Regions from separate parts of the Homo sapiens genome. Here region 2 is linked to region 1. Evidence: fine-mapped QTL for protein levels in blood plasma. A gene starts in region 1. The other region holds a variant in brackets. All regions are shown on one strand. Distances are between the middles of the regions.

Region 1 (12,326 bases):
AATGTCTTAGGAGCTGCCAGTGTACATTTTTGTTTGCATTTATTGATCAAGCAATTTCATACTTATCTCTGCTAAATACTAGAAGGTGTCAAAATTTGGCATAGAGGCTACAAAAGTATGACTCAGCCCAATACAGAATGATCTTTGCTTGTGTAATTTTTAATAAATGAAACATTAATATTGGTTTAATGAAGAAGCTACATCTTGAATTATTTAGTTAAATACCCAAACTTCTAATCTTGTGTTAGGCAGTCTAGTCCATAGACATGAAGGAAGTTTGTTCTGCAAAAGGACTGTTATCATCTTTGTTTCAAAGCTAAACTCTAAGTTAATGAACAAGAATAGCTTGGAGGTTAGAAGCAAGATGGAGTCAGTTAGGTCAGATCGTTTTCACTGTCTCAGTTATAATTTTTTTATTATACTTTAAGTTTTAGGGTACATGTGCACAACGTGCAGGTTAGTTACATATGTATACATGTGCCATGTTGGTGCTCAGTTATAATTTTGCAATGGCAGTTTCATAACTTTAAATGAAGACTATCACAGTTTTCATGAATAATCTAGGTAAATGATTAAAATAAATAATTAGATAAATGTAATGGGATAAATACTCATAAACAAACTTGTCATAATTTAGAATCTAAAGTTATATTAAACAACAGAGATTTTATTATTTGGTTATTTTCCAGTAAAAATATATTGTAGGAGCTACTCGGAAGGCTTAGGCAGGAGAATGATGTGAACCCGGGAGGCAGAGCTTGTAGTGAGTGGAGATCACGCCACTGCACTCCAGTCTGGGCAACAGAGTGAGACTCTGTCTCAAAAAAAAAAAAAAAAAAAAAAAAAAAAAAAAAATATATATATATATATATATATATATATATATATATATATGGTAGGAAAACATTCTAAAAATTGTGTCCTTTGTAAAGGGTAACTAATTTTTGTCTAATTCAAAACTTATTTAAAGGTTATATATAAAACAAGGTATTAAAGAAAAGAGAATTTATGTAAGAAAAGATCTCATATGGTAAATTGTTGCCATAAAGTAAAATAACTGGTTGTTTAAAGAAAGGGCTATTTAGGACAAGTCAGAAAGTTGAGGCATGTCAGAGATTGCCTGTGTAAGTCAAGAAAGAATTTATGAAAGGGAATTTACACAAGAAATGTTGTACAATTTAAAGGTGATTAGACCTCCTAAATACTTTATTTAAAAAATTGCCTCTATGACTCTTAGCTGTAAAACTTGCCTGCTTTACAGCTAGGTACGGCCTAGGACACATGGAGTTAGATGCTGGAATAAGTCAGACTTACCTGCACTTCTGTCTAGGTTCTAGGCTCCACACTTAGTAGATAATTAAAATCCCAAACTTAGCAAGGTTTTCACAAAAGTAAAGTTTGCCAAGAGTTAAGAGTGTAACATGTATTTAAGACTGTTAAAGAAACAGTTCACATGCAAGCAGTGTAAGGAAAGTAAAATATACTTTTGGTAAAAAGATTATAACGAGGCATGAGAATGTGGATTTTTGCCTAAATTTAAAGGTTAAAGGATTGTTTTAAGTTGAACAAAATAAAGACGAAGGTTTAAGCAAGTTGTGGAAGGTTGATTGTAAAGGAAATTCTTTGTGTAAACATATTGGCTGAAGTTAAAGGTGTATCATCCAGTGTTTTTCTCAATTAAGCATTAAAATAAAAGCACACTGGGTTTCTCTTAGAGCACTAACCTGCTCTTTAACAAAAATTGTAAAGGCTTTTTTTTTTTTTTTTTTTGAGACGTAGTCTCACTCTGTTGCCCAGGCTGGAGATCAGTGGTGCGATCTTGGCTCACTGCAAGCTCCACCTCCTGAGTTCACGCCATTCTCCTGCCTCAGCCTCCCAAGTAGCTGGGACTACAGGTGCCTGCCACCATGCCTGGCTAATCTTTTGTATTTTTAGTAAAGGGTTATAAAAGGTCTATAAAAATATTACCTTATGGTCAAACATTAAAATTGGGTAAATATGTCTATAAGGTTTTACTAAGAATTGGGTTTAACATTAATAGTACACTAATGTAAAGGTGTAATTGGCTTATTTGGTATAAGAATTATGCAGGAAGAATTGTCAAATATGAAATGGTGTTTGGCTTTCTTTGGGCTATATTTGTATGAATATGTTATTGGTATGTGTTCCAAAGTTATGGGAGACTCCTATATTTCTAATATATCTTAGTGTACATTATCAATAATAATTATAATAGTTATGTTAAGTTATTGTGTACCACAGAGGTAACAGATTTCCTTGTCAATTGTATCTTTAACTATGGCTACCCTAAAACTTTTTGTCATCCATAAACAATTGTTCTCCTCTTTTGGTCCTCTTTAGAAGGTGGTTTTATAATCAGCTATAAAGCTCTAACAGGTGCTCTTGAATGCAGGTTTCTGATAACTTTGGAGATTGTGACATCAGAACTGAGGAAAAATGTTCAGGACTTTTTTTTTTTTTCTCTTGAGACAAGAGTCTTGCTCTGTCGCCCAGGCTGGAGTACAGTGGTGTGATCTCAGCTCACTGCAACCTCCACCTCCAGGTTCAAGAAATTCTCCTGCATCAGCCTCCCGAGCAGCTAGGACTACGGGCATGTGCCACCATGCCTGGTGATTTTTTTGTATTTTTAGTTGAGATGGGATTTCACCATGGTAGCCAGGCTGGTCTCAAACTCCTGACCTCAGGCAATCCGCCCACCTCAGCCTCCCAAAGTGCTGGGATTACAGGTGTGAGCCACCGTGCCAGGCCTCAGGACTCTTGAAGAGCTAAACTGCTCATTAATATCAAGCAGGACAGGAATTAACTGCATTAACTGAACTAATAGGAGACTGAAGTGATCTTTTGACTTTTTGCTTAAAATATTGCTAATTCTTTGTTTTGTTTTTCAGAGTCAAGGAAACTTTTCTTTTGAACTATTGACAGCTTTTAACAATTTAGTATACTCCCATGAACAAAATTTGAGCATATTTGTTTCTCTCTAGCTGATTTTCTCCAGAATTTGAAAACTATTTGTAAGTATTCTTAATCTATGGCAATATAGTTATTTGGATAAGTGGAATAAAAATCTGATTTCTTTTGTAACAGGTCACAATTGAAAAAACTGATCATTTTACCAAGGCTTTGACTGGAATGGTGTGCTTTCCTTTAAGAAATCAAACTTGACTTATGGAGCCAACGGAACCCCAAGTTGTCTTGGAACCTCAAGAGGAGAGAAATTCACCCAACACATAGGTATTTGATGGTACAAATCCATGACTGGGCTTGGCTTTAAAGTCTTATCTGAGATTCCTGCTGTGGAACAAAGTTCCATCAAAGCCAGTTTAAAAGGTCTATGTGAAAAATAATTTTTCTTGCTGCAGTTTATGCAAATAATCTGGCCAGCTGGGCATAGTGGCTCATGCCAGTAATCTCAGCACTTCGGGAGGCCGAGGTGGGCAGATCACGAGGTCAGGAGATCAAGACCATCCTGCCCAACATGGTGAAACCCCTTCTATACTAAAAATACAAAAATTAGCTGGGTGTGGTAGTACGTGCCTGTAATCCCAGCTACTCGGGAGGCTGAGGCACAAGAATTGCTTGAACCTGGGAGGTGGAGGTTGCAGTGAGCCAAGATTGTGCCACCGCACTACAGCATAGTGACAGACTGAGACTCTGTCTCAAACAAAACAAACAAACAAATAATCTGGCCAAGTATAATAAAGCAAATTGGTCCTATCATGATTTGTCTCTAGTAAAAATGGGAAACTGGAGACAGAAAAGTTATGTTTCAAAAACTATAGTACACCTATTGTTAAATTCTAGTCTTGCCTGATGTTTTTCAGTTTTTATTACTTTCTACAGTTTGGATGAAGTTCTAATTTTTCTGGCTACAGGTCTCCAAAATAATGTTTTCAATTTTTTCCTCTTTAGTTTCCTTTTTCCCCATTCTTTCAATTGGAAATCACTGAAACTTAAGCTGTGCTTACTTAAAGCCCTGTGAACTAAACAACTTAAATTTCAGAAGAAAACAGCAGCAACCTATTTATATGTTGCTGTTGCATACTATTACGCTGTTGCAAACTATTTACATGTGTTGCTGTTGCATACTAGTATGTTTCAACAGGTGCTGCCTCTAAGCCCTGAAGCAGAGAGTGCTACCAAGAACAAATCGACCTCTTCCACTCCAGTGCTGTGTTTGGTGCCCCATAACGACGACCCTCTCTCAGCAGGAAGTAGCCAGAAAGGTTATGATGTCCCATCTCCCTACAATCCTCGTGATAAATAAATATACAAGCATGATAGATATCATGTGCAAATTGACAGTGGAGATTGTGGCAGGCGGATCTCACTAAAGCAGGCTTCTGTAACAACTGTTTCAGTATTGACTGAGTGGTTAAGTTAAATATTAAAAGCCAGTGGCCCTTATACAAAGGCTGGGATGGAACAAAAGCCCACCAAGAGTTTTGCGTAGGCCTTTCCTGGGCCTTAAAGCATGACAAAATAATGAAGGAATTCTTAACAGGACCCATTTAGGATTAAACAAGTTTTATCATGAGTCTGAAGAAGCTTTCCAGGCCTCCACATACAAGTTTATTGCAGGTCTGAAGGAACTCCCTAAACCTCCATGATTTAGCAGGAGACAAGATAAGGGTAACCACCCCAGCACCTGGACCCATTTAGATTAAGTAAATTTACTGATGCTCCGGAGGAAGATCCTCAGGACTCAGACCTTAATTATAGATTAAAAGTAGTGAATCACTTATGTCTTTAGATGAATGCACACTTACACGTAGACATATAGCTTAAAAGGTATATAAGCTCTGGAAAATGTTGTAATTTGGAGTTGGTCTGGCAATAACTTCCAGGCCTTCCCCCTGTAACTGGTTACAGAAATAAAAACTCTCTCCCCAATTCATCTGCATCTCATTATTGGGGCACAAGAAATAGCAGCCCAACCCTCAGTTTTGTCCAGGAACACTAGAATTACCAGCGTGAGCCACAGTAGCTTGCCTGTAAATGCTCTTTATCAAGTTGAGGAAGGTCCCCTCAATTCCCATTTTCTGAATTTTTTAAATAATAAATTTAAAAACTGTGTGTTAAACTTGTGATGTTAAATTTTGTCAGGTATTTTTTCTGCACTGATTTATATGATTATATGATTTTTCTTCTTTTTCCTTTTAATGTGGTTGATCATTTTGATTGTTTTTCAAATAATGAACCATCTATGTTTCCTTACAATAAATTCTATTTGGTTATGGTGAATTAATTCTTTTTATGAAATGCTGAATTCTATTTGCTAATATTTTATTAAGAATGTCTGCACCTACATCAAGTAGAGTTTTATGGATGGAAATTAAAAGAAAAGAAGTTTGGGGCTGAACATGGTGGCCCCTGCTGTAACTGCCCAACGGGTTCACCTTGCCCACTGCCTAGACAGAACCGGTTTATCAAGACAGGGGAATTGCAAAACAAAAAGAGTAACTCATGCAGAGCTGGCTGCGCAGGAGTCAGGAGTTTTATTATTACTCAAATCAGTCTCCCTGTGCATTCAAGGACCAGAGTTTTTAAGGATAATTTGGTTGGTGGAGTGCCAGTGAGTCGGGAGCACTGATTGGTCAGGTTGAAGATGAACTCATAGGGAATCTAAGCTGTCCTCTTGTGCTGAGTCAATTCCTGGGTCGGGGCCACCAGAACAGATGAGCCAGTTTATCGATCTGGGTGATGCCAGCTGATCCATCCAGCGCAGGGTCTGCTGAATATCTCAAGCACTGATCTTAGGTTTAACTATAGTGATGTTATCCCCAGGAGCAATTTGGGAAGGCTCAGAATCTTGCAGCCTCCAGCCGCATTACTCCTAAACCATAATTTCTAATCTTGTGGCTAATTTGTTAGTCCTGCAAAGGCAGTCTAGTCTCCAGGCAAGAAGGGGGTTTGTTTTGGGAAAGGGCTGTTAGTTAGCATTATTAACTAGTTCCCTCAACCATAAACATCTTGTAACCAAGAGTGCCCAACCCCCTGGGAATATAACCCAGCAGATTTGGCTTTTTCTGGCCTTTATTCAAGATGGAGTCACTCTGGTTAGGTTGCCTGACACAAGTGCACAGAGACTGATATGCTCAAAGGGAAGATGATGTGAAGACACATGAGAAGACAGTCACGTAATGCCAAGGTTTACCACAAGCATCTGCACCAAGAATTCGATGGATGGGCCTTTAGGAACTCCCAACCAATTTCCATTAGCCTCCCTCCCAAACCCTTCTCAGAATAAACATATAATTTTAAAAACAGTTTTGAGGTTCAGTACCCAGTATCTTTTTTCCAGTCCTATTGCCTCCTTTATAGCCGTATTTTATATATATATAATTTTTTTTTTTTTTTTGAGACAGAGTCTCACTCTGTCACCCAGGCTGGAGTGCAGTGGCACGATCTCGGCTCACTGCAACCTCTGCCTCCTGGGTTTAAGCAATTCTCCTGCCTCAGCCTCCCGAGTAGCTGGGAATACAGGCACAAGCCGCCACACCCGGCTAATTTAGTTTCACCATGTTGCCCAGGCTGGTCTGGAACTCCTGAGCTGAGGCAATCCACCCTCCTTGGCCTCCCAAAGTGCTGGGATTATAGGCGCGAGCCACCGCGCCTGGCCCAGTCCTATTATAGTTTTTAGCTGCCCCAAGAGGACAGGTTTACATTGTAGAAATGCAATCCACTTCAAATTGAACCACAAGCATAACTTTTAAAAAATGTTCTGTAGCTGACAGCCTTTGCATAAACTGTGTCAGTGAGAACATTTTGTCAGTGGGAGAGATCTGATTTCACCAACCGGCATCTTGCCTTTGCCTTTAGCCTTCAAGCTACCTTTAATTATTCCTGGACTTCTGGGCCAAGCTAACTTTGGGAGGCATTTAGGTTATAGGTTAAATGATAATGGCCCTTCCCCAAACTTTACGCTAAATGACCACCAGGCTAAGAAAATAGAGGAGGCTGAATTCTGCTAAGGATTGCCAGCCATTATTCCTGAGGTCACAAAATATGCAACTTCTCCAATTACTCCTGCAGACACCATCACTATTGTAGAACCTAAGATTAGCCTTTTGAGATATCTTTTCAGGTTTTTTTGCATGTCTGACACCTGGCTCCACCTGGACCTACCAACTGCTCCTGCGGCCCCACCTGGAAGCAAATCCGCGCAAGAAGACAGCTTCAACTCCCTGTGATTTCATCTCCAACCCAACCAATCAGCAGCAAGCATCCATTGCCTAGCCACCTCTGCTCCTACCCCTAAACTGTCTTTGAAACTACTCCTCAGAGACTGATTTGAGTAATTATAAAACTCCAGTCTTCCTTTCAGCCAGCTCTGCATGAATTAAACTGTTTCCCCATTGCAATTCCCCTGCCTTCATAAATTGGCTGGCTCTATCTGGGCAGCAGGCAAAAAGAACCCATTGGGGGATTACATAGCCACTCCTCATCGGAGAAATTTCTACTGGCTCTTCTTCCAGCCTCAACTCTCTTTGGCTAATCTTTCTCTATATGTAGCCTTCACTTCTTTTCATCTTTCTCTCTTCTTTCCTCTCCTAGGAGCAAAACAAAATTTCTCCTGGGCCGCACAGTTTGGCAATTATCTTTTGTTGCCTTGGCTGCAGCTACTATGCCATCAGCTCCCAACTCCTAACTTCAATGAACCAAGGAGGTATTTTTCTTAAACAAAGACCACTCCAACCCTGAAGATTGGAATTTCGCCACTGCCTGTAAGGATAACAAGCTTTAATCTGGTTTCTACATGTGGTTTTTGTTTATTTTGTTCCTGTGATTATAAACTGTAATGAAAAAAGAAAATGTTACTGTAATACTTGATATCATGTATTTATCCATGTATCCAACCTTCTTTCCATCCTATCCATCAATCCATCTTATATTCTGGATACTTTTTTTTTTTTTAAGAGACATGGTCTCACTATATTGTCCAGGCTGGTCTCAAACTTCTAGGCTCAATCAATCATCCCACCTTGGTCTCCCAAAGAGCTGGATTACAGGCATAGGTCACTGTGCCAGCATCTGGATACATTTCAAAGAAAATTGTATACATTGGTACACCTTCCCCTAAACACTTTAATATGAATATCATTAACTAGAGGTGACATTTTATTTATATTTTTTCCTTTTGAAGTCATATTAGCGTATTATAAAATGCACAATTTTTTTGTGCGTGTGTGAGATGGGGTCTTACTCTGTCACCCAGGCTGGAGTGCAGTGGCACCATCTTGGCTCACTGCAACCTCCACCTCCTGGGTTCAAGCGATTCTCATGCCTTAGCCTCCCGAGTAGTTAAGACCACAAGCAAGTGCCACCACACCCAGCTAATTTTTGTATTTTTGTAGAAATGGGGTTTCACTATGTTGGCCAGGCTGGTCTCAAACCCCCGACCTCAAGTAATCTGCCCACCTCGGCCTCCCAAAGTGCTGGGATTACAGGTGTGAGCCACCTTGCGCCCTGGGCTGTAGTGTTATTTTTGTGGCAAAAAAATTGAAACCCTAAAATTCTGACTGCAGTGGAAGGGTAAGTGTATTTCAAGCCCTAGTGATACAGACCAACTTGGAAGCTTCAGACAGGAAAAGTTTGCTAGATAGTTATTTATTTTTAACTAAGCATGTACTTTTATGTATCTCCCATATGGCATGGAACACCTGCTCACTGCAGCCTGGAGCTCCTGGGCTCAAGTGATCCTCCCACCTCAGCCTTCTGAGTAGCTTGGACAGCAGGCGCGTGTCACCACATCAGTTAATTTTTGTTATTTTTTGTAGAGAGGGGGTCTCAATATGTTGCCCAGGCATTATGGATTTTATGCATTCGGGACCATCCCATGCTTAAAGCATGACAGAACCCGGCGGCATATTTTTCTCTGCCGCAGCTTTCAGTGCAGGGGCACCTCACAGGCAGGGCGGGGTCAAGGCTCTGTCCAGACAATGGCTGCAGAGTAAAAAGCACTTCCATTTATGGGGGTCAAGGGCGAGGGGAGGGAGAAAGGAGCAGGGAAAGAGGAGAAGTGGCCACATGTACTTTGATTTGTTTTTTGCTTTTTGTTACATGTACTTTTGAAGCAGTATTTAGAAGTAGCCTCTCCTACAGCCCCTGCTGTAGCTTGTCTCCTAGCTGTGAGGTGAGTTATTCAGTACCCTCTAACGTAAAAATGACCTTCAGACAGACAGACAGACACACACACACACACACACACACACACAGAGGAAAACAGCTCTGTCATCCACTTTTTCTTCCTTTCCCGTCCCCAGACCCTCGATTCTCTCTTTAAAATGACTGCTGTGAAGATAACGTAACACAGAGTAATACTAATGACAAATTATCAAAAAAGAAAAAAAAAATAAAAATCTTTATTAGTGTTTTTTAAAATGACGTAAAAGACTATGGGAAAAAATGCCAACAATAGTTATGTATAACTTTTTTGTTCATATTTCCAAAACGTTTATAACATACATAACTTTAAAAGAAAAATAATTTAAAAAATACATATCTGAAAATGAAACCCCGCTGTTTGCCAACGACCAGCTGGCTTAATCTGACTTCGCAGATGTAGCAGTGTTGGAAAACGTCGGTTCTTTTGCTGAGGGAAGGAAGAGATGGGAGGGGTAGAAAGGGCGGTGGTTATTCCCTTTAGTATTTCGATCCGGTCACACAACCTAAATCCAACATCTGCATCAAATGTCTCCTTTCCGAAATACTCTCCCTAAAATGACAGAGAACCTGGCCAGGCGGACAGAACGGCCCCTGCGCATTTGCAGGGGTCCTGGTGGGCTTGCCGGGCAGAGGGCGTGCGGGTCTCAGCAAGCTGCCGGGTCCGCCCAGGCCCCGCCCCATGCCCATTCAGGCCCCGCCCCCGACCCGCAGGCCCCGCCCCCGACCCGCCCCGTCCGCCTCCGTCACGTGATGGGGCGCCGGGTCCAGCCTGTTGCTGATGCTGCCGTGCGGTACTTGTCATGGAGCTGGCACTGCGGCGCTCTCCCGTCCCGCGGTGGTTGCTGCTGCTGCCGCTGCTGCTGGGCCTGAACGCAGGTAGGTTCAAGCAAGAGGCGCACCAGCTGCCATGCCTCTTTTTTCTCCAGGCGTGAGAGTTTGTTACTGGGTTTGTGCTTTTGAAAACATGTCTCTTTTCCCCGGTTCTTACCTTGTGTAATTATATTGCTTTTGAATCTCACTCTTTTTTTTTTTTTTCCTTAAAAAATTCAAAGTGCTTTTTTTGTCCTTTTCTGGCTCTGGGTGGTCTGAGTGCTTCCGTTCTCTCCTACGCCTAGATAGAAGCTGTGTGCAGAAATGTATGATTTGGGGAAACTGCTGGTCAATGAGGTTTCCCCGATTCAAAGGCCATGATTGGCTGCTAAATGAGGATATAAGGTCGTTTTATTTTAAGCTGAAATCTGCGGTCAAAAGTACCCTTACATCCTACCACGAATGGGACATTTCATTGAGATAAGGCCCTTTCTTTTCTTGATCAAAACAAACAAGATAACATCTTCCCCCACAGCGATCTTTTTTGGCAAAAAACAGATTTGTGTTTAATAGGATGACTTGCAAATTGATTTTCAGCAAAACCTCTCCTAGTCTGAAGCAAGCACTGAGAATTGGAACTGGCCACAAGCTTGCCTTGTGACCTTAGGCAAGTTGTTGAACAGTTTTGTTTTCCTTTTCTAAAATGGGGATCATCTGGCCCTTAGGCGAGTGTCTGGGAGATTTTGTAAAATAAGTAGCTCTGCCAATTTTACCAGTAGTCACTGCCAGGCAAGGGAGAAGTGCCTGGGGTTAGGTCAAAAGGTACCTGCGCCTTATCTGTCATTCTCAAGGGAGCGCAGCCTTATCTGTTATTGTCAAGGACAATATAATCGTGTGTTACTTGTATATAGAACCTTATAGCTAAGTCTGTAATGTTTTAGTCATCTGTTTTGCTCCTCAGGACACTTTCTGGTTTTCTTAATCTTCATTGTTGTTTTGTTTTGAGTCAGGGTCTCACTATGTTGCCCAGGCTGGTCTGGAACTGCCTGACTCAAGTGATCTTCCTACTTCAGCATCCCAAGTAGCCCGGACTGCAGACACAGGCCACCACCCTGGCTCTTTCTTATTTACAAGACGTTGTCTCATTGTCTTCCTCTCTACTCCTGTCTCTTTAGCTGTTGGGACCAGTGTTCTTTTACTGACCAATGGGGCTTGAAATTTGAGAAGGGAGGAAATAGAAGGCAGAAAACTCCAGTCACCGAGGGGATCCCCCCCATCATCTTTTAACAACAGCCCCTCTACTTTTTTTTTTCCCAGAGTGGTTTTGGAGGAAAAAAAAAAAGATGCTATAACTTGGAAATTGTTACGTTAGCAAAAAGTGACAAAGAAAATGTATTTAGCCTACTCTTTTCTAAAACATATTTTGTGGATGCTAGAAAAGTTAAGTAAGGAAAATTGGAGTTAGGGGATTATAGGATACGTATATTAAACACACATACACAGATATATATCGTTCAGTTTAAAAAAATCATCTACATGAGTTAGGAAAATTGCCCTTTTTCATATTTGTTGTAGCTCTTTCCTTGCTGTTTGCCTTTTTATTTTTGATTTACAGAAATTTTGTTGTATAGAAATATAACAAGTTTCTGTTCTCACCTCCATCATTGTTTCTTTTGTACAGTCTCTGGGGTTTGCTTAGATTCTTTCCTCATCCAGACATTAGAAATATATTTAACTATATTTTTGTATTTTTTTAATGTTTAAAGTTTAAAATTTAATTGCTTGATCCTCATGGAACTTATTTCGTTTATAGTGTTGAGAGGACCTAAATTTCTCTTTTTTTCTCCAAAAAAGGTAATTGTTGCTCCATTACTGTATATTGAATATTCTCAGCCCCACTAATTTGTGATGCCTCTTCACTCATGTTTTTTGTTTGTTTGGTTGGTTGGTTTTTTGTTTTTTTGAGATAGGATCTCCCTCTGTCACCTAGGCTGGAGTGCACTGGTGTGATCACAGCTCACTGCAGCCTCAACCTACTGGGCTCAAGCGATTCTCCTACCTCTGTCTCCTGAGTAGCTGGGACCACAGGCATATGCCACAATGCCCAGCTAATTTTTGCATTTTTTGTAGAGATGGGGTGTTGCTATGTTGCTTAGACTGGTTTTGAACTCCTATGCACAAGCTATCAGCCTGTCTTGGCCTTCCAAAGTGTTGGGATTACAGGAGTGAGCCACCAAGCCTGGTGTCTTACTCATGTATTAAATACGATATAAAAACCAGTATATTGCATTCTGAGATTTTTACTTTTTTACTCAAAATATAAATCTCTC
Region 2 (8,233 bases), 78 kb before region 1:
ATAGCACTCTGACAGAGCCACTTTGTTGTGGGCGGTGTTGTAGTCCAGGATGACTTTAATGTAATCTGAGAAAACATCACCCCAAGGAATTAATTACAAGGGGCCCAAAGTGCTCTTTTAGACCTTTGCCAAAGTGGTACTATTTATTCACTAGTTTTATCCATCCATGCACCCATCTACCCATTGGTCCATCCATCCACTCATCTATCCATCTGTCTGTCTATTCATCCATCTATCTGTCTATCCATGTATCCATCAATCCATCCATGTATCCATCCATCCATCTATCCATCTACCCATGTATCCATATACCCATCTATCTACCTATCTATCCATTCTTCCATTCATCCATCTATCCACTTATCTATCCATCCTTCTGCCTTTCCATTTATCCATTCATTCATTCATTAATCTATCCACTTATCTATCCATCTGTCCATTTATCCATCCACCCATCTATCCACCCATCCATTATTCATCAGCTCATCTATCCATCCATTCATCCATCCATTCTGTCCAGCCAGCCAGCCATCTATCATCTATCAGTCATCCGTATGTCTGTCCATTCATCCATCCAAAACCATTTACCAGGCACCTGACTGACACCAGATTCTGGCACAAGATGCACAACCATGAACCAGAGAGACAAGGTGCCGGGCCTCATGGAGTTCACACTCCAACAAGCAAGGCAAGTCCATCAGTAACAACACCATGAGACTCACACTCTGCCAAAAGGGTAAGCACACACTGTAGGGACACAGAGACAAGGCAACTGATGCTACAGTTGGGGAACATTTCACTGGCAGGCTGGAATTGGAGCCAAGTAACAGAAGATGAGAACTAGACAGAGGAGAACAGAGAGAGAAAAGCTGTTCCAGACAGAGGGAACAGTGAGAGTGAAGCCACGGAGTGCCAAGGGGATTCGCATGTGCTGGGATCGGGGAAGCTGGGTGGCTGGGAACACAGATGCAGCAGGAGAAGGGAAACATGTTGGGGCTAGAAAGGGAAGGGCTTAGGAGGCTAGACTTTAACTGGTGGGCAGCAGGGAGCCAAGCGAGGCACTCATTTGCTAGGTGGCTCAGGGCATGACACTTTTCACTGGAGCCCGAGTTTCCCCCAAGGCAAAATGAATAAGCTGGGGGTGGAAAAGGCCCTAAGTTGATAGAATTTTACTTTCCCTGTTTATGCGGCTGCCACAGAGTGCACAGCAGCTCCTGAAAGACGTGGCTCAGCACCGCCGCTAGCAGCTTGGGCAAGAGTTAGCTGCAGCCCAGGGCTGGTCTGGGCCTCTCTTGGGGGGCAGGGACAGCGGAGGGCTACAAGAAGGCCAGCCCTGAAAAAGCAAGGGACCCACAGATCCCCACCAAGCCTGCTGCAGCTGCTTATGATAAAGGAAGGGCTATATTTTTCAGTGATTGGCTTTGGCCTCCACATGGAAGTGGGTACCACTGGCAGGTGCTGCCTGGAGTGTTGCACGTGGGTGCAGAAGAAACAAGAAGACGGAAAGTGGGAGGGCCCTAGGCCTGGCCTTGACAACGGAACTCCACCCACTTCCAGGTTGGACGAGCTTGCAAAGGAGGGGTGGATGGAAACCCAGGGGGGTATAGCAGCTCAAGCGGCAAGGGGAGAGAGTGTCAGAAGGAGGAGGAATGCCACTGACAGGTGAAGCTAAATAAAAGCTGAAAGGCGTCCCTGGATTTTGTGACACGGAGTACCCTGATGACCTCAGAGCTGCCTGGGTCAAGGGCAGGACAGAGGTCAGAATGCAGTGGCACGAGGATTAGACTTCAGGCTCCCACCTCGGCCCCACATTGCAACCCTGGGCAGCCAAACACCAACATTCTGAATGAACCAGTCTGGGGGACAGCCTGGGCATCGGGGATTTTAAAAAGCTCCCCAGGATTCCAACACGCAGCCACAGTTGAGAGCCACCAATGTAGAAAATCTGCAGAGCTGCTTTTCCCCAACTGTCCTCAAAAGGATCATGGAGGAAATGAGCTAAACATACAGCTTTCCGTGCTTGCCTGAGTCTGATCTTGTAGGGCTAGAACAGGGCCCAGGAATTTGGTTTTTGGGGTTTTTTGTTTGTTTGTTTGTTTTTTAAGACAGAGTCTCGCTCTGTTGCCCAGACTGGAGTGCAGTGGCACAATCTCGGCTCACTGCAACCTCCACCTCCCAAGTTCAAGTGATTCTCGTGCCTCAGCCTCCCAAGTAGCTGGGATTATAGGCATGTGCCACCACGCCCGGCTAATTTTTTGTATTTTTAGTAGAGATGGGGTTTTGCCATGTTGGCCAGGCTGGTCTTGAACTCCTGACCTCAGGTGATCCACCTGCCTCGGGCTCCCAAAGTGCTGGGATTACAGGCATGAGCCACCGCACCCAGCTAGTAATTTGTATTTTTAACAAGCATTCGGGTGAAAGGGAGGCAGGAAACAGAGCTGCAGCTGAGACAGTTTTGCTAGGTTTGTTTTTGTGATTTGGAGAGATGTAAACGTGCTACAGATAGGCAAGCCTAGGTAGAGATGCTGAGGGTGAAGAGATGGGAATGGAAAGGCCTAAGAGAGAGCAGAAGATTCCAGAGAGCGTGTGGGGAGCAGACTCCAGAGCCCAGGGCCAGGGGGTCTTGGGAAAGGGGCCAGGAGGCGAGGAAGGGGGCACAGTAGATGCAGATGCGATGTCAATAACAGAGCAGGGGGAGCCCCTTCTACAGTGTCTGTCTTTTTCGTGAAGCAGAAGGTGGGCGGGACAGGGAGAAGGATGGAGCTATGGCCAGTGGGAAGTCTTGGGAATGGTGGCTCTGGAGAGTGGTGGGGAGGAGACAGGAGATGCAGGGCAGGCATGCCGGCAACGGGACGCCCGGTGAAGGCCGGTGACCGCAATCGCCCTGCCTTCTCTGCAGAGGACATGCAGGCGCCGACCCACAGAGAAAGGTGAGCTCAATTGGGCCAGACTAGACGGCAAGAGGGAGAGTCAAAGGACCGATTGTGAAATCTGAGCTAGTTAGGAAAAGTAAAGAAAGGCACTGATGACTGGGAGAAAATAAGGGAGCAACAAAGTAGAGGACAAGTGAAGGGGAGTGGCTGATATAGCCGGCCAGCTGGCCTCACAGAGAGCTGCACAGAGCGGCGCAGGAGAGACAGAACCAGTGGAACCGCGCACCAGCCCCGAAGCTACTCACACTCCAGGAGCTCAGGTCTGGACTTGGCCAGGAAGGTCTCCAGCACCTTGGCCTTGAGAGATGTTGAGTTCGGATGTGAGCTGGTGGCTTTGGCTGCAGCTGGGAGAGGAAACAGAGAGTGATTTGCAGAACAAACTCAGAGTGGACACCCCAAAGCTCCTTGCCCATGATAACTTACCCTCCAAGCCAGCTTGTTTTAAATCCACTAACTGTTCCGGGGCTCCAAACGTGGGAAGCTTGCTGGGTAAGGCAGGGACAGGGGCTGGGGGTAAGGAAAGGGAAATATGATACAGAGCAACGGGATGGCCTCTACTCCCTTCCACACTGATTAAGAGCCACTTCTACAAACACACGCCTGAACAGCAGGACAACACAGGGGAAAACAGACAAGGCTAAAGTCACCTTATTCATCTCACTTATGCTTGTCCTCCCCTCCAGCCTCAGGCCTGCTGCCATTACAGAATGGAATCATATAGAACCCATCACAGAACCCTGATGAGAGAGGTCGACTCTCACTACCAGCATTTAGTTCTGTGCTCGGGCAGTCTCAAGAAACGAACAGTTGCAGAAATGCATAACTTACGAGGTTTCTTGGATTTCTTTTCCTCTTCTGCAAAAGAAAGTTTTCAGATTTAATTTCTTTTAAGGCACAACACAATGACATTTTCAAAATAATAACATTCATGTGCATGAATTTGACCCAGACAAATAAAAGGATGTTTTAATTTGAAAAACAGAAGGAGTCAGCAGGCAAAATGAATCTATAGTGATAGAAACCAGCATGAGCGGTCGTGGGGGCGGGGACTGACTAATAAGGAGCATGAAGGAATTTTCTGGAGAAAGGGAAATTCTTTATCTTGATTTGAACAATGGTAACACATGTATGCATTTGTCAAAATAGATCTAACTGCACATTTAAGATTTACTGCAGGGAAAAAAGAGATTTACTGCAGGTAA[A/G]TTATATTTCCATAAAGGAAAAAACACAAAAACCAAATAGGGAATCAGAAAAAAAAAAATGCTTGCCAAGGGCTGGGCGCATGGTGGCTCATGCCTGGAATCCCAGCAATTTGGGAGGCCAAGGTGCAGGAACCACTTGATCTCAAGCGTTAGAAACTAGCATGGGCAACATGGGGAAACCCCATCTCTACAAAATTACAAAAAAAAAAAAAAAGAAAAAACTAGCCAGGCCTAGTGGCACACACCTGTAGTCCCAGCTACTTGGGAGGTGAGGCAGAAGAATTGCTTGAGCCCAGGAGGATGAGGCTGCAGTGAGCTGTGTTCTTGCCACTGCACTCCAGCCTCAGCAACAAAATGAGACCCTGTCTCAAAAAAAAAAAAAAATGCTTGCCAAGTCTTTTAAAAATATCTGGAGTGTCTACCTACAGGAACTGAGTTTGGCTAAAATAGTCGTTCTCAAAGTCTGGTGCCCAAGCCAGCTGCAGTGACATCACCAGAGAACCCCTAAGAAATGCAAATTATTGGTCAGGCACTGTAGCTTACTCCTGTAATCCCAGCAATTTGGGAGGCTGAGGTAGGAGGATTGCTTGAGGCCAGGAGTTCAAGATCAGCCTGGACAACATATCAATATCCTGTCTCTACAAAAAAAAAAAAATTGTTTTAATTAGCCTGGCTTAGTGGCACATGCCTACAGTCCTAACTCCTCAAGAGGCTAAGGTAGGAGGATCACTTGAGCCCAGGAGTTCGAGGCTGCAATGAGTTCTGTTCGCACCACTGCACTCCAGCCTAGGCAAAAGAGCGAGACTCTGTCTCTTAAAAAATAGTAAATGCAAATTCTTGGGCCCCAAGCCAGAGCCACTGAATCATAAAGGCTGGGGGTGAGACCCAGCAATCTGTGATGTACAAGCCCTCCAGGTGAGTCCAAAGTCCACTCAAGTGGGCTAGAAGATCCCAGCTTCCTTCTTTGCCACCTTCCACAACACTGGAACAAAAAGGGGCGTTTTTGAAATCATATCCCTGCCCACCTGCAGGACACCTGACATTACAGATAAGCCCTGCTCTCTCCTATTACCCTCTCCCTCCCCCAGACCCCCATCACACCACAAAGCCCCCTTGCTACCGCTTCTCCTACTTCGAAGTCACATCACTCACAGTCGCTCACTCTCCCATTTCCTCCCCTTCTGCCACTTTCCCACCCACTCCCTGTGGACCAGCATCTTGGGAGGCCCAGGCTGTGACATCAATCTAGGGCACAGGCACCTCCCTCATCACCTACCCTTAGACATCTCTCTGCACTGGGACTACTCCATACCCCCTCCCCTATTTCCCCATTTCAGCCTAGAGGAGCCTTGATTCATTCCCGAACTTTATTCTCCAGGGTGTCATTCTGCTGTGACATGAGGACCTCACCTCACTGGGGAACACACCTGCCTGCTGGCCGGCATCCCTACCTCATTCATACTAAGGGAGGAGCTTTCAGAGGAAGGTGACTGGGGAAGGACACAGGTCAACAGTACCTTTCCACTTCCTCTTTCACTCCTCTTTTCACACAAAGTACCCTTCGAGGTTTTCCGGCCCAGCTAAGGGCTCCCTCCTCCATCTGCACCAGGCATCCCAGCCCTGACTCTGTTCCATTCGGGGACCGATACCACACTCTGCCTGCTACAGGTGACCTGAACACTAAGCACAAGCAACAACAACAAAGAGCAAGCCCTGGCTCTCTCATCCCCCCAACACCAGCAGTGTGCAGCCAGCCCTCCTGGGTTCACACCAACTTTTCAGGGAAGCAATGACAGCTAACATTTCAGTGGTATATGGACATGTCAGTGGTATATGAACATGTCAGCGGTATATGGGCATGTCAGCGGTATATGGACATCTCAGCGATATATGAACATGTCAGCGGTATATGGACATGTCAGCAGTATATGGACATCTCAGCGGTATATGGACATGTCAGCAGTATATGAACATCTCAGCGGTATATGGACATGTCAGCGGTATATGGACATCTCAGTGGTATATGGACATCTCAGTGGTATATGGACATCTCAGTGGTATATGGCTCATAAAGAGCTCTCACAATCAGTGTCCCCTCATCACTCAGAATCATCCTGTGGCCTCGATATCACTATTGTCCACATTTGCAGAACAGGACCACTCTTCTCCTCAACCCCCATGTCAATGGCAGGTGCCTGCCCAATGAGGGGGATAGTACCCCTAGGAGGGCAAAAATGGATCCTTGGGGGAGGGGGAGTAAAAAAGATTACTCTTTTTATGTGTAAAAGCACAAACATAAACAGTTATGCAGTAGATGGGTGGTATTAAAATTTCATGGGTTGTAATTAGGAAAAAAATTTTCTCAAATGGTTCTGGGGATGAGCAGGAGGAGGGTAACAGTGAGAAACCAAAAAAAAAAAAACAGTTGAGAAACATGGTAATAGCAGAAGCCCATTACAACCCAGAGACTTAACACTGCTGAGATGCCAAGGAGGTTTAGCCTCCACCCTTCCTGGACCGCCATCAGTCTCCTTGCCCAAGGCTCTGCCCAAGGACTTGGGTATAGTAAATATTTCTCAAAACAAGCCAGCCTCAGGCATCTTGCTGTTCCAGGCAGCCCAAACGTGCAATGCTGATGGACAGCGGAGCTTCTGCCACAGCCCTACAGCCCCCCGCAGTGGGGACTGCCACCAACTTCTTTCCCACTGAGGTCCAGGCCCCACAGTGACTCGGGATGGGCCGGAAGTGACTTGGCCAGAGCCTGGGGAGGCCACAGCCATGCTGTTGCCATGGAGACAGGGGTGGGGCTACTTACTGGAGACCTTCTTCACAGGGCGTGTGGATTTGTGTGTGGACGCTGGGTCATGCTCTCCAGGGTCACCTGTGTCAGAGAAGAAGGGCTCAGTGTGTGCGGCTCCTCTCACTGACCCTAGCAGCCAGCTTTGCCATGGGTCGGTGGGCAGGCAGAGGGTTTACACAGACAGCCATTTCCTCCGACCTTCCCCATCCCATCGCTTACAAGAGCTACAAACAAGGTGATCTAAGAACCAGTTTGGTGTATTCCCTTTTTTCTCTGACTTTTTAAAATGTAGCAAGGGCCAAGTCTTTTTTCCACCAGCACCCAGCTCTGTGGCCTCTGAGACTTCTCTGAGCTTTGGTTTCTTCGAGCACACAATGGGGATGACTTCACCTTGCTCATGGTTGATGTGACTCCTGAATGAGATCAAGGTCATGTAGCGGAGGCTGGGTCAACACTTGTTCCTTTCCCACTATTCTTTCTCTCCCCTCCTCCCACATACCAGCCACCTATAGCTTTGCCCCCACGCAGCACTTCCACAATGGGGCTGCACCGCCACCGATTTCAGAAGCCCTTCTGCAAGGACACTCGGCAGGCCAAGCTGAGATTCAAGCCCAATCTTGGACTACACAACAGAGATTTACTATGGGCCAGGCTCTGTGCTAGGCACTAGGGAAATAGCGTTGAAGAAAAATCAGACAGGCCAGGCACAGTGGCTCAAGCCTGTAATCCCAATGATTTGGGAGGCCAAGGCAGGAGCATCACTTGAAGCCAGGAGCTCAAGATCAGTCTGGACAACTTAGCGAGACCCTGGCTCTACAAAAAAAATTTTTTAGGCTGGGCCCGGTGGCTCACGCCTGTAATCCCAGCATTTTGGGAGGCTGAGGCAGGCAGATTACTTGAGGTCGAGAGTTCAAGACTAGCCTGACCAAAGTAGTGAAACCATGTCTCTATTAAAAATACAAAAATTAGCCAGGTGTGGTGGCACATGCCTGTAATCCCAGCTACTCAGGAGGCTGAGGCAGGAGAAATGCTTGAACCTGGGTGGCAGAGGTTGCAGTGAGCAGAGATTGGGCCATTGCACTCCAGCCTGGGTGACAGAGCGAGACTCCGTCTCAAAAAAAAAAAAATTTTTTTTTAATTAGCCGGGCATGATGGTGTGTATCTATAGTCCTAGCTAGTCGGGAGGCTGAGGCAGAGGGATCACTTAATCCCAGGAGTTTGAGGTTACAGTGAACTATAATCACGCCATTGCATTCCGGCCTGGGCGACAGAGCAAGATCCTGAATAAATAAATAAAT

Which allele goes with the higher level. Positions count from the first base shown, and alleles are read on the strand shown. Strength reflects both the effect of a copy and how common the allele is.
For the plasma level of the protein whose gene starts at base 9,958 in region 1, allele G in region 2 goes with a lower level than allele A (moderate association).

Evidence for each region. PIP is the chance, under the fine-mapping model, that this variant and not a neighbour inherited with it causes the effect. The UK Biobank Pharma Proteomics Project read protein levels with antibody pairs (Olink). The fine-mapping took linkage between variants from a reference panel, not from the people measured, so its PIPs are less certain.
Region 2: its variant is fine-mapped to the plasma level of the SCPEP1 protein (UK Biobank, PIP 0.98).

What each region holds. Positions count from the first base shown.
Region 1 is chr17:56,968,174-56,980,499 of GRCh38, forward strand. It overlaps SCPEP1 (serine carboxypeptidase 1), which reads left to right and starts at 9,958. Exons shown (of 13, transcript NM_021626.3): 1 at 9,958-10,062. The coding sequence starts at 9,987. LOC105371836 (a long non-coding RNA gene) reads left to right here. Exons shown (of 4, transcript XR_934875.4): 3 at 3,106-3,252; 4 at 7,576-7,834. RefSeq lists a silencer at 9,841-9,900.
Region 2 is chr17:56,892,165-56,900,397 of GRCh38, forward strand. TRIM25 (tripartite motif containing 25) reads right to left here. Exons shown (of 9, transcript NM_005082.5): 5 at 6,951-7,016; 6 at 3,762-3,788; 7 at 3,357-3,440; 8 at 3,179-3,277; 9 at 1-65. Among named protein-coding and RNA genes, the nearest start is that of MIR3614, 4.9 kb to the left of the region's middle. The variant A/G (reference allele first, on the strand shown) is at 4,136.